Regions from separate parts of the Homo sapiens genome. Here region 2 is linked to region 1. A link means that fine-mapping ties the variant in region 1 to the expression of a gene that starts in the linked region. Tissue or cell type: regulatory T cells. Region 1 holds a variant in brackets; the other region holds the start of a gene. All regions are shown on one strand. Distances are between the middles of the regions.

What was found. PIP is the estimated chance that this variant, and not a neighbour inherited with it, causes the effect.
Region 2: it holds the start of AGA-DT, and the variant in region 1 is fine-mapped to the expression of AGA-DT in regulatory T cells (Bossini-Castillo 2019, PIP 0.92).

The regions. Positions count from the first base shown.
Region 1 is chr4:177,543,450-177,551,561 of GRCh38, reverse strand. All of the region lies in intron 1 of AGA-DT (AGA divergent transcript), which reads right to left. Among named protein-coding and RNA genes, the nearest start is that of AGA-DT, 100 kb to the right of the region's middle. The variant C/TACACACAC (reference allele first, on the strand shown) is at 4,273.
Region 2 is chr4:177,440,305-177,448,416 of GRCh38, reverse strand. It overlaps AGA-DT (AGA divergent transcript), which reads right to left and starts at 3,407. Exons shown (of 4, transcript NR_183779.1): 1 at 2,974-3,407. AGA (aspartylglucosaminidase) reads left to right here and starts at 5,980. Exons shown (of 9, transcript NM_000027.4): 1 at 5,980-6,168; 2 at 7,991-8,112. The coding sequence starts at 6,042. RefSeq lists enhancers at 5,315-5,394, 5,485-6,028, 6,855-6,934.

The sequences.
Region 1 (8,112 bases):
CACCACGCCCGGCTAATTTTTTGTATTTTTAGTAGAGACGGGGTTTCACCGTGTTAGCCAAGATGGTCTCGATCTCCTGACCTTGTGATCCGCCCGCCTCGGCCTCCCAAAGTGCTGGGATTACAGGCGTGAGCCACCGCGCCCAGCCTGTAGGGTTGGTTTCTATGGCCTCCCTCCTTGGCTTGTACATAGGTGTCTTTTCCCTGTATCTTTATATGGTCCTTTCTCTGTATGTGCCTGTCTTCTAACCTCCTCTTCTTATAAGGACACCAGTCCCACACTAATGACTTCACTTAACCTTTATTACCTCCTCAAATACCCTATCTCAAAATACAGTCACATTCTGAGATACTGGGGGTTAGGATTTCAACCTATCAACTTGGGAAGGACATAGTTCAGACCATAACAAACTTTTTGTTAATTTTCTTGGGAATTTATGCAGGTCAAGAAACTGAGCAAAAGTGCTGCAGAGGTTGGATCCTCGGAACATACTACAATTAACACAGAAGTAATAAGTAATTACTGCAATACTTATTAAACATTCACCCTGTGCACAGTTCTGTATGCAATGCTCATGGAAGGATTATGAATGTTAGTACATATTAATGTTGCTGCTGTTTGAGACTGTTCAGGTGTGTTGCACTCTATGAGAAATGTGAAGAAACATAACAACCCCAACCTCTAGGTAATTAAAATCTTGTTGGAAAGAAAAGGGAAAGATATGTGTAACCGCACAAAGCAATGCTACAAGAGATGCTAATGATGGTTTATAATTACAAATAGGTAAAGGAAAGGAAGACCAAGTCTAAACTCAGAAGAGAATAGAAGAGATCTAAAGCAGATATCATGGACTGGGAAGGATTTGGGAGGGTACTAAACTTGACTTGGGCCTTCGGGTTGGAGACTGAAGGGACAAAGAGAAAAGGAGGCATTTCAGGAAAGTTAATCCCAAAGGACTGATCAAAGCGTAGTGAGGAGAAAAGTTTTACTAACATTAAGGATTCCACAGGAAAGTGATAGAAGTTGGGTACAAAAGTAGATTGGAGAGACTATGTACATTATCTATAGCCAGACAGCCTTGTAAGGTGAGTATTCATACAGTAGTGAAACTATAGATGAGAAAAGTGGGGCCAAAAAGCTGAGCTAGTTATCAACAGGTGCAATGTAATAAGTAGGTAACAAATAGCAGAGCTGAGATTTAGGAGACTTGTGCCTTTGAACGTCAATGAATCTAAAGCAAAATTTATTAGGACAAATACAACCTTGATACAGCTTCACGTTTTTTTCCTCCCTAACCAAAAACAAAATGTAATAGAAAAACAAGTCTATTTTTACTCTTTTATTATACAAAGACTCCATTATTAACTTACAGCTGAAGTGGTATGAAAGGTCTTTAAGAGAACAGGTACTAAACATTGTTTCCAGGCTCAGCCTTAACTGGAATAGGAATGCAGTAGGATTTCTTGGACGTCAAGAGGCCTATATTTGCTTCCCCAAAAAGCCTTTTTCAAATGCTTGTGATTAGGAAACAATGCCTTCCACACACCCGCTCTCTCTGTTCAGGTGTCTGCCTCTTTCATTCCTACCTTAAGGCATTAAATGTGCTTCTCATTGTCAGATGGGGACCCAGTTATTTCTTTTTTTTCATTTATTTATTTTTTTGAGACGGAGTCTTGCTCTGTCGCCCAGGCTGGAGTGCAGTGGCGCGATCTCGGCTCACTGCAAGCTCTGCCTCCCGGGTTCACGCCATTCTCCTGACTCAGCCTCTCGAGTAGCTGGGACTACAGGTGCCCGCCACCATGCCCGGCTATTTTTTTTGTATTTTTAGTAGCGACGGGGTTTCACCATGTTAGCCAGGATGGTCTCAATCTCCTGACCTCATAATCAGCCTGCCTTGGCCTCCCAAAGTGCTGGGATTATAGGCATGAGCCACCGCACCCGGCCATATCTCTTGAGTACTTATGTAATCAATAAATGAACAAAGCAACTATGTAAAACAGTTACTAAAGCATTTCAAAATTAGCCACTCTAAACAAACCCAGAAGCCTAAATTACTGACACATTCACCAGCTGGAAAGACTGTGGACTTTGAAGTCACATATAAGAAATTCAACTTCAGTTCTTTTTTTTATTTTGAGAAGGACTCTCGCTCTGTTGCCCAGGCTGGAGTGCAGTGGCACCTCCCGAGTAGCTGGGATTACAGGCACGTGCCACCCTACCCAGCTAAATTTTGTATTTTTAATAGAGATGGGATTTCACCATGTTGGCCAGGATGGTCTTGGTCTGCTGACCTCCTGATCTGCCCACCTCGGCCTCTCAAAGTGCTGGGATTACAGGTGTGAGCCACTGTGCCCGCCCTCAACTTCAGTTCTTATATGTTTGACCACAGAAATGTAACTTAACCTTTCTAAGTCACAGTTTTCTAGCCTGAAAATGGGAGTAATAATTAACTCACTGAGTTATCATGAATATCAAATAATATGTACAGTTAAGCACAGTAATTGATATACAGCAGATGCTTAGGAAATATTAATTCCCTTCCCCTTCTCCATTCTTGTGAGCTCTCTTTGATAGGAAAAAAAGATACAAATAACAGGATGCAAATTACAAATATACCAGGCATCTGAAAGAATGAGAATAGAACCTACAAAGATCTCACAAAGGAGGAGGGCAGTGGTGTACTGGCAGCTAGACTGAAAAAAAAAAAAAAGCCCTCATTTGTACTTGTGATAGTGGAAAAACTCAAACTGTTTTTCCTCTGTTCTATCACCACAAGCAACACAGAAGACTTCTGTGACCAAATGTGTGGGGTTTCTCCCCACACACTAAGCAAGCAATCAGCTCTGCAGCAGACACCAGCTGGGTGCCCTCCAATTCAATTCAATTCAGCCACTATCTGGAGACAGCCTCAGATCCCACAAGTTGGGGGCTCAGTCACACAAAACCACCCCCTCCTTCCCATCAGCATACCCCAGCCTCTAGAATTTCTAATGCACTGGCTTCAAATTGGGACTCTCAGAGCCCCCTCTTTGGGTTCAATTAATTTTCTAGAGCGGCTCATAGAACTCAAGAAAACATTTATGATGTTTAGCAGTTTATGCCAAAGGATATTTTAGAGGATACACATAAACCGCCAGATGAAGAGATACACAAGGCAAGGTCTGGAAGGGTCTCAAGCACAGGAGCTTCTGTCCCTTTGGAGTTGGGGTGCACCACTTCCCAGCACATAGATGAATTCTTGTTCACCTTCCTCTCAGCTTCCACATATTCAGCTATCCAGAAGTTCTCTTGCACCCTGTCCTCTTGGGCCTTTAATGGAGACTTCACTGCATAGACAGAATTGACCACCAGGGAGAAGTATGATTGGACAAAAAGGGTATTCTCTAACACTAATAGGCTGAACAGAAACCCAGCAAGGCTTGTCCAGATTCTTTTTGGCTTCTCTGTGCTGTATTCCTTTTTCCAGGCTAAGGGCCAGGACCCCTTCTGAAATGAGGATCTTATAACCCACAATCAGAATGGTGAAAGAAGATTAGAGTCCTGTCTCGGGCTGCTGACAGGAGAATAGGAGAAGGTCAGAGAGAGAGTTTCTGTTTTTTGAGACCTAAAGAGCCACAGCATTATAAAAACTGTTACAAAGGCTACGGGAGTTATGAGCCAGGAACAATGGATGAAAACCTATATGTGTGTGTGCCCCTGTGTGTATACAGATGACATATTTACAATATGTATACATATTCAGTATTTATGGAATCAATAAATGAACAAAGCAACTATGTTACTAAAGCACTTCAAAATTATACGTACACATATTACACATATTTATATAAAACTGGCCCAATTTTCCCATAGAACTGATATTTATGGGGTTTTTTCAATAAACATAGAGATTGATCCTCCTGATCTTGAAACTTGAAACTTAACATTTGTCTCCTCTGGGTTCCTTCCTCAGGAAACCAAACCTCAGGCAAGGGACTCACCAGATCCTGGCACCCAGACAAGGAGAAGCCAGAGCCCCCATCAATCGTGATTGCTTCCTCACCCTTCCCTAATTCCTCTAATTCCTGTTTCCCACATGTAGTTATATTTCCCCCCCACTATGTCAACACACCAATTTTAATCAATTTGGAGAGATGGATTTGAGGTTTGGCTCTCATCCCTCTGGTTGACTTCACCCAAATAAAAAGTCTTCTTCCCTGGCAGTTCTGTGCAGCGAGCCACTGAAAATAGAACAGATACACACACACACACACACACACACACACACACACA[C/TACACACAC]ACATATATAATATACACATTTAATAGCACATATATACACACACATATATAATATACACATTTAATAGCATATATATACAAATTTAATAGCATATATATCACATTTTACATATATACACATTTAATAGCATATATATATATATATATATCAATCATACTGTCAGTAATGTTTGCCAATTTCTGTGATGTAGATGCACCCTGTGATGGCTAATTTCAAGCTATATAACAATCTATAAACTATAACATATAAACTATAAACTATAACAATCAGCCATCAAACTTCTGAAATATTTAACAATCTGCTTTTACTTTCACTAGGTGGCTCCACACCAGAGGAAACTTACAACTGTGATTTTCATCACTGGTATTGTGCTTGTTGGTACCTGTTTCCTGTCTTGTCTTCAAAGCATAAGGGTAGGGAATGGTTAGGCTGAAATTCAGAATAAACCAAAGTAAATGTTGACAGAAGAAAATTCCTCAAGGATCTAGAACCAGAAATACCATTTGATCCAGCAATCCCATTACTGGGTATATACCCAAAGGATTATAAATCATTCTACTATAAAGACACATGCACATGTATGTTTATTGCAGCACTATTCACAATAGCAAAGACATAGAACCAACCCAAATGCTCATCAATGATAGACTGGATAAAGAAAATGTGGCACATATACACCATGGAATACTATGCAGCCATAAAAAAGCATGAGTTCATGTCCTTTGGAGGGACGTGGATGAAGCTGGAAACCATCATTCTCAGCAAACTAACAGAGGAACAGAAAACCAAACACCACATGTTCCCAATCATAAGTAGGAGTTGAACAATGAGAACACATGGACTCAGGGAGGGGAACATCACACACTGGGGCCTGTCAGGGGGTGGGGGGCTAGGGGAGGAATAGCATTAGGACAAATACCTAATACCTAATGCATGCGAGGCTTAAAACCTAGATGACAGGTTGATAGGTGCAGCAAACCACCACGGCACATGTATACCTATGTAACAAACCCGCACATTCTGCACATGTATCCCAGAACTTAAAGTATAATAAATAATGAAAAAAAGAAAATATTAGTAGCTGAGCATATAAAATGCATATAGATAAATGAAGAAATAAGTATAACAAAATATTTAGTTAATTACAAAGTCCCCAAGTTATATCTTTAGTACCACCAACGGTGTTTGGCACACAGTATTGCTGTCTCTATATACTGATTAAATTATTGATTAAATATTTTCCTTTTATTGCAATTGAACTCAGAGTAAATGCTGTATTGTGCTTTCAGGTAAGTAGAAATTTCCATTTTAACTGCCATAGTAGTAATTTGTGGACACTCAGTATATCAACTCGAAAATTAGGATAATAATACCTCTTTCATAGGGTTGTGTAACTTTTTAGGCCGAGAGCCTCCTCGCGATGTTGGATGGTAAAGTATCTCAGTATAGAAATTTGGAAGCTAAATTGCCTGACTTTAAATCTTGATTCTTCCATATACTACCTGTGTATAATCGCCTAGTGACTTATTCTCTGTGTGTCTCAGTTTTCTCATCTTTAAAATAACAATCATTATACCAACTTACAAGGTTGATATGAGGATTATGTAATTTATGTGAAATTCTTAGCACAATATTCGGCTAATAATTAAGCTAATAATGAATGTTACCGATTATAATTTGTACAATACAACCAAGAAATGTTTTGTTTCCCTGCCCATCTCTACCTGTTCTTACTTCTGTTTGTTTTCTTTTTTTTTTTTTTTTGAGACAGAGTCTCGCTCTGTCACCCAGGCTAGAATGCAATGGCAGGATGTCAGCTCACTGCAACCTCCGCCTCCTAGGTTCAAGTGTTTCTCCTGCCTCAGCCTCCTGAGTAGCTGGGATTACAGATGCCCGCCACCACGCCCAGCTAATTTTTGTATTTTTAGTAGAGATGGGGTTTCACCATGTTGGTCAGGCAGGTCTTGAACTCCTGACCTCAGGTGATCTGCCTGCCTCGGCCTCCCAAAGTGCTGGGATTACAGGCATGAGCCACCACGCCCAGCCTACCTCTGTTTGTTTTCATGGCCTTCAGGTCTCTTTATAACTTAGCCCTATTCTCCACATTAGCCCCTATCCTGCTTCACTTCAACATACACTGACAGCTGTACTCACAGAGTGGCCTCACCTCAGAGCCTCACACATTCAATCCCAGCTTTTAGGTTTGCCAAAAATATCTTTCCTACTTTCTTCCAGTCATTTAAATCTGATCTAACCTTGCTAGTTCAAATTTTCATTCCCGCTTTCATAGCTCTCTTCTTAACTTCTATAGCAAATACACTTATGCCATATAATCAATCATTTAATTAGAAATTCCCTTGTATTTTTCTTTCTGCTTTCGAAAGGGAATTATGTTATCTTCCGCAACTCTGGAATTGTGCAGAAAACACAGAATTACCCCCAATAAATGTGCATTGATCGATTTATTTACTATTTAGAATTAACTTTGACTTTAGTTATTATATCAATAGAGCTTTTATCAAAAGAACTTTTCTCTTTAACTGACACTACTTGCATTAAAATGCCAATCATGTAGGAGAATATGGTTAAGTGATAATGTTTAATTGCTTAAAATTATTACATCATTTACTATAATAGTATGCCATTTGAACTAGATATTTTTAAGGTTTGATTTCTTAAGTCTATATCATGGTATCAAATTTATATAATGAAAAAAGTTTATTTTAGTATTTGGTTGGTGCAAAAGTAATTGTGGTTTTTGCCACTAAAAGCAATGGCAAAAACCACAATTACATTTGCAGCAACCATAGTACTGAAAATTTTACATACCTAAAACGCAGCTAAAATACACCACATTGGCTCTGATTTAAATTGCAACACAAAAAGGAACAAAGAAATATCCTTAACCGTATGTAATGTGTAGATTTCTTTCACACTGATGATGAATGGAGCGTAGTTGCCCAGGCCTCTAAAGTAGTCAGAATATCATGCGGGATATCCTGAGATAGCAGAAAAAACACTTAAGAAGTAGTAATGTGCTCCCAAAGAGCTCAGCCCTGCTCTTAAAAGTAAACTAGTGCTGATGCCGGGGTACCAGGGGAAATCTACTACTGCACTGTGGGCGCATGTGCCATTGCTATGTGAGACACATAGTAATGTCTGTCCATTTATTCACACTCTAAAATTTATTTGTAAATAGTTTTTAACTCTACTTAATCCCACAAGATTAGTCTTCTGTCTGCATTTGCCATACCAAAGAAATTTTGGCGGCTGTAAAATTAAGGCTATCTAGACCAGCAAATGTCACATGTGAGAAAAGCTGAACATTTTAACATTTAAAAGGCTAAACTAAGATCCATCAGGTCTCCTCAACCAATGATTCCTGAATTAGTTATCTGGGATACAGGGTTTTGGTTGTTTTTCTTTTTTAATTTCTTTCTGAAACATAAATACTGTATGTCTTATTTATCCAATCTTACTTATCCAGGAAAGCCACTGACATAAAGTAGGCACTTAAGAAACATTTGTTTCTCTATGACCTGGACCTTTTTTTTTTTTTTGACAGTCTCACTCTGTTGCCCAGGCTGGAGTGCAGTGGTGAGATCTCAGCTCACTGCAACCTTCACCTCCTGCTTCAAGCGATTCTCCTGCCTCAGCCTCCCGAGTAGCTGGGATTACAGGCATGTGCCACCACACTGGCTAATTTTTGTATTTTTAGTAGAGACGGGGCTTCACCATGTTGGTCAGGCTGGCCTCGAACTCCTGACCTTAGGTGAGCCACTCTCCTCGGCCTCCCAAAGTGCTGGGATTACAGGTGTGAGCCACCACACCTGGCCTGG
Region 2 (8,112 bases), 100 kb after region 1:
TCAATATATACATATAACACAACTACACTTATACCCCGTATCTATAAAAATAAAAAATTAAATAAAATTTTTTTAAATCTTCAGAGAACATGTTATAGAGGTCCTTAGCGGTTTTCTGGGGTACTGACAATATTCTGTTTGTTTATATAAGTGGTGATTACATAGCTGTTCATTTTCTACAAAATTATTTAATCTATTTATTTACATTTTATGTCCTTTACTGTATTTACATTGCACAATGAAGGTTTTTAAAAAGCATAAATTTTAATGATATGCAGAGGTCAAAGAGATATTAAATAAAAAAGCAGGTTCTACAACAGTGTGTATAATACCAAGATTTTTCACCAAACAGATACATATCAAAATGTTAAGAGGCTGGTGATTTTCAACAAGAGCTAGAGTATTTCAGAGATATTTGAAGGACACAAAAGTGTTTCTAAAAAATGAAAAAAATAAGCTATGTTATGTGAAAATCTTTCCTTTCATATTTTTATATGAATGATTGAGAATTAACAGACTATTTGTGTAGCTACACACAGGATACATGTGTTCATTATTTGGATAGTTTTCTAATACTCATTGTCATGATCGACAAGTAGATATCATTTTAAATGCATAATGTACTTCCTGTAAGTCACTGTTAGTTTAGAAGTTTGCTTTTATTGTTGAATTTCTTTATTGAAATCATCTGTCACACTACCTTAACAATGTCAAAGTCATTTTTTAAGTGGTAGGAAGACATCCTGACATCTACTCTGTTGCCCTAAGGCTTTACTATTGTAATGGATCACATTTATGATGACATCATAATGTTATAAACAACTGTCACAAAAAGCAAGATCCACCATGTTTAATAGTCTACTATGTCCTTGTTATGAAAACTATATCACAGCAGTGGCCCAGTATTACAATTACACATTGAAAATATGTTGTACATAATTTATTTTGATAAGAAATAACTTAATAGGCCCACATTCTACTGCACAATCTTGGTCTTTATAAGTCACTAAGATGACTTTTAAAGGTTAAAAAGTCAAAAAAGTTTGTGATTAGAATCTGCTATTGATTTGACAAATGGTTTTGGGGGCATGACCCAGAAAAATTATTTCAGAAGAGAAGAATGCTCTCTTTTCTCATTTAGAGAATAAGAGGATGACACTTATTTCTGTATAATGACTCTAATTACATCCAGAATGTACAATCAGGTAGTAACATCAAATGTTCCCAGATTAATGTAGACATTGATTTAAATTAGAAACACAGTACCACAATGCTCTAACATCAGCAAAAATCATTACTTACAGTTTATGAAACTGACAGGAGCAAATGCCAATCAAGTAAATAGCCTATATTTAGATAACCTAGGTAATAGTTCAGTGGGGAGTTTTGAAAAAGAAATTATCATTTCAATGCCAAGTCAGGCTTACAGCTTTGAACAAGTAGCAAAACATGGACATGTTTCTCAAATGGATTTCACAGCATCAGTGCAAAAGCCGGAGGGGATGGCTTAGTTTTTTAAGCCTCAGAATTGAAATACCTAGACTCCCTGCAACTACAGCATTAAATCCTCTGTGGAACCACAGCTTCAAATGCTATCAGGAGGGACTCAACTCTTCATCCTTCTGAGACTGATAAATTGAAAGCCATGAAGTTTAGAGGAAATAAGAGAGCCTGCAGCGGTCTGAAACTCCTCCACCCACCTCCAACACACACACATACACAAACACAAACACACAAAGGCTCTATTTGCAACATCACTTAAGATTCCATTTGAGGCTTTCCCCTTGTTAAGACTTAAGGGTGTTGTTTTTAAGACATCCAGAAATCTCACAGTCCTGCCATGCACCATCTTTATAAGCATTCAAACCAAATTTCAGGCAGCTCCAAGTAAACTAAAAACATTATTTTTAATTCTCATTTAATATATTCAAGGAAATTCTAAGTGATTACTTTCAAATGCATTATAGGTATTGGGCCAACTCTTTATTCTTCCTGTGGAAATTTCTGTGTCTCAAATTGATCAAATTGATTTCTTTTTACTGCCTTGTATGTTTCTGGACTGCCTCCTTGACATCAATTATAGGTACTTGGGAATGGCAAATTAGAATAAGAGAATTTTATTTAATTTGCCTGGTATTACACCATTCTCCCACATCTCCTACCTCATTCACAAAGCTTTGTAAAATAAGAAAGAATACTATTATTATCTCCATTTTATAGATGAGAAAAGCATGGCTTAGGAAGCTTACATGAGTTAACCACAGCTGATACACAGTCACCTTTTTTTAATTTTTTTTTTAATAGAGACAGGAATCTCGCTATGTTGCCCAGGCTGGTCTCAAACTCTTGGGCTCAAGCCATCCACCCACCTCAGCCTCCCAAAGTGCCAGGATTATGGACATGAGCCACTAGGCCTGGCCACACCCTAAGTTTTAAAATCTAAGTCTGGAAAATCCTCCTGAAGTATTGCTAGTTATAAGTAAGCTCTACTTAGGAACAGAAACATTTTGCCAAACAAAATTGTGTAATGCATTCTAAATTTAAATAAAAATACTTTTACAAATAGTTCCTTTGATTTATCAGTAACACTAAATATCTCTGCCCTGTGTATAATGATTTAAAAGAATGAAAAATTGGAGAGGATGCTGGAAAAACTGAGGATCATTTATTTTACGGTCTACTACTGAAACAGGAAAAGTTCCCTTGTCGCCCTTGCAGGGCGTGTGATGGGGGTGTGGCTCGCTTCTTCAGTGTCCTGCTGCTCAAACCTCTATAGGGGCATACAGACGGGCAGATTGTGAGGCTCTGACCCCACAGCAGTGTCTAGGTGTGAATGTTTACAGCTGAAGCCCCAGTGGGCATGTGTTACAGGGTGCTCTTTTAGTTTAACCGTCTGTAGGCGGCTTGTGTTAGCTCAATTAGACCCCTGCCTTATCGCAAAGACAGAGGGCTTTCTGTATCCCGGGTTCTTACCTTGGTGTACGGGAAGAATTGGATCACACGTGGGCTTGAAGAATGAGTGGAAAGTTTTATTGAGTGGAAGTAGCTCTCGGCAGACGGGGGAACCAGAAGGGAGACGGTTTTCTCCTGGAGTCAGGTATGGCGGCCTGACTCTTCTCTGACCTCCCGCGACAAACTCTGCATTCTTCCGCTGGTCAATGGCCTGCCAGCATGCCGGTGTGCTCCTATGCTGGTGCGTTCCTTTCGACATCCAGCAGCCCCTGTATTCTCTGCCTATATGCTCCTCTCAATGTCCAGCTGCTTGTGCGTCTGCCTGCCAGGGTCTCGGGGGTTTTTAAAGGCACAGGATGAGGGCATGGCAGGCCAGGGTGGTCTTGGGAAATGCAACATCCGGGCAGGAAAACAAAAATGCCTGTCTTCACCTAGGTAGGCCCAGGCCCAGGGATGAAGCCCTAGCTGGGGACCACGCCCTCCTCTACCCAGCACTTCCCGCCCCCCTTCCTTATCATTTAAAGGGACCACGCCCTTCCCTTCCCAGCATTCCCTTCCCAGCACTTTCCTGCGGCATCACTACCTGTTAACAGGTGTTCCTTTTCGTTTAGATTTACCTCAAAACAACGGCGAAGGATCTAATTATATTTAGGCCCAAAAGAGCACCTAAGTGAGAGTAACAGAAGGTTACTTCTAGAACTAAAATGAAAATTATTCTTCAAGTGTTAGTCAAAGGAAAACTACTCCAGAAGGAACCAAATATCCAGACGAATTTAACTTAAGAAACAGCTACAATTTAGGCAAACTGGACAGTGGATCCAGTAGGTATTTTAGTAGCCACTAAGAAGACACTGAATCGGGTAGATTCTATAGGGATTGCATATTAGTTATTTAAATACAAATATCCGGCTGGGCACGGTGGCTCACACCTGTAATCCCAGCATTTTGGGAGGTCGGGGGGGTGGGGGCGGTGGGTGGATCACCTGTGTCAGGAGTTCAAGACCAACCTGGCCAAAATGGCAAAACCTGTCTCTACTTAAAATACAAAAATTAGCCGGGCATGGTAGTAGGCAGTAGCAATCCCAGCTACTCAGGAGGCTGGGGCAAGAGAATCGCTTGAATGCAGGAGGTGGAGGTTGCAGTGAGCTGAGATTACACCAGTGAACTCCAGCCTGGGCGATAGAGCAAGACTCCATCTCAAAAAATAAATACATACATACATACATACATACAAATATCCATGGAAAAGTTGATATATTGAGACCTTCTATCAGCCATTCCCACTATAGTGTAATTTAGCTGTTTCTCTGACAGGAATTTTTATTTAAGAAGAAAGAATTTGGAGAAATAGACATAGTAGGAGGTAACAGATCAGGCTCTTTCCACCAGAAGAAACACAAATACCTTAAAAAACAGGAAGAGGCTAGAGAGATCAGTGGGGTACTAAGACCAATTTTCCATGTATTGTATTTTACAATTTTTGCTAAAGGCATGTCCTAATTCCTTAAGGCTGCATAAAAATACTCAGCCCAGGAGCTAAGGAAAATTTACTCAGAGGACAATGTATGTTTTTCTGGCTTTCTTACCCTGTTTCACCCAAGTTTCCAGTTTCACCTGCCATTGGGTTATGATTACTCCAGCACAGATGACTTGTTCCTCTTCCAAACCCCATGAAAGGAACTTAGAAAATTTGTCTTTATTATATCTTTTAATTAACACTTCCCCAACGGGATAATGATACTTCTGGGCTATCTTATGTTCTTTAAATTATGTATTTAATTTCCTAGCAATCAATAAGAGCCTTGAAGGTTTTGTAAGTCTCACAACTCCTACCTAGTTTATATTTTTACATTTATTTATTTATTTATTTTTGAGACAGAATCTCACTCTGTTGTCCAGGCTGGAGTGAAGTGGTGCGATCTCGGCTCACCACAATCTCCACCTCCCGGCTTCAAGCAATTCTGCCTCAGCCTCCCAAGTAGTTGGGACTACAGGCATGCACCACCACGCCCGGCTAATTTTTGTATTTTTAGTAGAGACGGGTTTCACTATGTTGGCCAGGCTGGTCTCGAACTCCTGACCTCGTGATCCACCCACCTCAGCATCCCAAAGTGTTGGGATTACAGGCGTGAGCCATCGTGCCCAGCCTAGTTCATATTTTTAAAGTTTGTATAGATTTATAGATGCTTTTAAAAATTATGTGATTATGTGTCTTGCCTTGGCAACCTGGGCAGGCATTCCAGACACCCAAAGGGATTATTAGTTCATGTTCGCACGTCTGCCCAGCAACAAAACTGAGCAGCCTCCACCAAGCACGTAAAATCCCCATTCCTCCTCTTATTCATTTATTTAGCACTTAATAGTGCCAGGCAGGAAGGTAAAAATACATTTAAAAAGGAATGGAGGTAGCCGTCTTGCCCTGGAGGTGCAGGAAGCTGCACTTCAGTGTGCTAGGTAGAGGGTACATAGGCCGTTTCTGTTTTTCTTCCAGCTCAGGGATTTATAATGAGAGGAAGTGCTACAAAAAGCTGTGGTGCGAAAATGACGGACGCTATGAATGGAAAAAAAATCTAAAATCAATCCGGTCCTAAGCAAACACGCTTCACCTACACTCATAACTATTGCAGACCTCCGAGGCCTGGGATCCCCAAGAATATACTGAGTTTGACAAACTTTTCAACTTCAACTTTAAATTAAAAAGACAGTAAAAGAACCAAATCCATAGTACACAGCAATCGGCTAAAGTTCCTGGGGCCCTGCAACCCAGAGTTGAATAATTTTGTATTAAATTCCCAATATCAAGCTAAATCTATTTTAACCACAGGAAAAGCAGCAACTTGTCTGGCTATTTTAAAAATCTGAACAGCACTTAGGAAGAAGCACCTTAGCGCAGGGAACAGCTCAGTGCCCCGTGACACAACTCTCCCGCGGGCCCAGGGACGCCTCGTCTCGCGAGAGTTGAGGGACGCCTGAGCGAACCCCCGAGAGAGCGGGCGTGGGCGCCAGGCGGGCGGGGCACTGGGGATTAATTGTTCGGCGATCGCTGGCTGCCGGGACTTTTCTCGCGCTGGTCTCTTCGGTGGTCAGGGATGGCGCGGAAGTCGAACTTGCCTGTGCTTCTCGTGCCGTTTCTGCTCTGCCAGGCCCTAGTGCGCTGCTCCAGCCCTCTGCCCCTGGTCGTCAACACTTGGCCCTTTAAGAATGCAACCGAAGCAGGTGCGGGTTGGCGGCCTGGGCGGGCGGCTGCGCCGCGAGAGCTTGCGGGTGGGGATGACTAGCCCGCCCCGCTGCAGTCACCCGGCAGGGCGGACGGAAGAGCGCCGGGCTGGGCCGGGCCTCGCGGTCCCGCCCTCTAGGTCTTCCCGAGTCTCCAGCGCCGCTCAGTCTCTTGCAAGTGGCCTTTACTGCATCCTCCCCACCTACCGCTGTTGCATTTTAGGTCCTCCCTTCATGCAGCCCCCAGCGCAATGTATTTTCCACCCTGCTGCTGACCATAGTTATGGCCTTTGTGCTTTAATCAAGTAGCAGCTACGCTTTTCTGCCTGACAGTCTTTTCACGGGCTGTGTACGTCTCCACCTCTCGTTTCTAATCCTTCACTTCTTTGCAATTTTGTAGACGACTAATAGTGTCCCAGCCATAGCCTACTCTTTTCCCATTTACTTTTTTTGCCACGTGTTGTCATACTTTACCTGCCACTTAGAATTCAAGGTTCCAACCTTTGCTGTACATTCACACTATCTGGGGAGCTTCTCAAAAATCATCCTGCCGGGGCCCACCTCCTGTGACTGTGATCTAACTGCTGGAATCAGGGCCACTGTTTTTCTTTAAAAAGCTCCCTAGGTGATTTCGATTTGCAGACAGGGTTGAGAACCACTAAGCTAAGGTATCACCTCTTCCAGGAAGCGTTCCCTGACTTAACTGCCCTCGTGTCCAGAATGAGTTAGGTTCCTGCCTTCTACACCTTGTTAATAGCCTTTACGTACCATTATCTTGGCATTTTCGCATTGTACTATGCTTGTTTCTTTCATTTGCTTAATGACCAGAAGAGTCATTTTCAGACCCCTCCTCCTCCATCTGAGGTTGCTAACGTATTAACTTTCTAGGGCAGAATTGGCTCCAGAATTTGGTGGCAGTGCATACGATTCAGAGAAAATGAAGAAGCAGGCTGTGAGAAAGATATTCCCAGCCATAATGAGACGAAAAGAAATTGCATCAGCCTGGGCGGGGGACAGTTCTGTGTTTAAGTTGCCTGTATTGAAAGAGGGAACTTGCGTAAATACACTTTCAAGCCTGTAGGTGCTGTAGTGTTTACCAACCAGAGCACCCACTCTTCAAGGAATTCTGTTGTTACCAGAAAAGAAATTGTCCATCAAAGACCCTTCCCCCCACACCCCCAAATGTATGGGATCCTGGCTCTGCTACTTACCAGCTGTGTGACCTTAAACTAACTGCCTGACCTGTGGCTCTGTTTACTTTTCTTTAAAATGAGGGTCGTGATTGTACAGTACCTACCACAGAAGCTGTTATGAAGACTCAATGAACTAATCCATATGAAGTCCACGTTGTAATTGTTTGCTGTTCAGTATTATTAAGACTTCCTGGGATAGGTGTTACCTCAATACACATATCAATTATGCATATTTTAATCTAATGATGCAGAAGAAATGTGTGAAGAAGGCTGCGGTTTAGTGGATTTTTTATTTAACTGCCTTTTAGTGGTTTCGATTGTACCTTTTAAAATAAAGGAGGGGATACTGATTTCGTTTCTCGCACACAGAAGAGATAGATATTAGTAAGTGAAAAAAAAAAAAACCTTCAGCTTGCACCAATAGCCAGTTTTTTGAGTTCTTCTGATAACTAGTTAAATAATTTTGACTCTTCACTGACTCCTTTGTAACACTTGATAAACTAATGTGTTAAAAAATCAGCTTAACTCAGTAAATGTGAAAAAGTTGTTAAATTGGAGTTGGTTTGTTGCATTTGGCATTGAAAAAAAAATATATATATAAACAAGCATTATTGGGATTTGATTAACAGCGTGGAGGGCATTAGCATCTGGAGGCTCTGCCCTGGATGCAGTGGAGAGCGGCTGTGCCATGTGTGAGAGAGAGCAGTGTGACGGCTCTGTAGGCTTTGGAGGAAGTCCTGATGAACTTGGA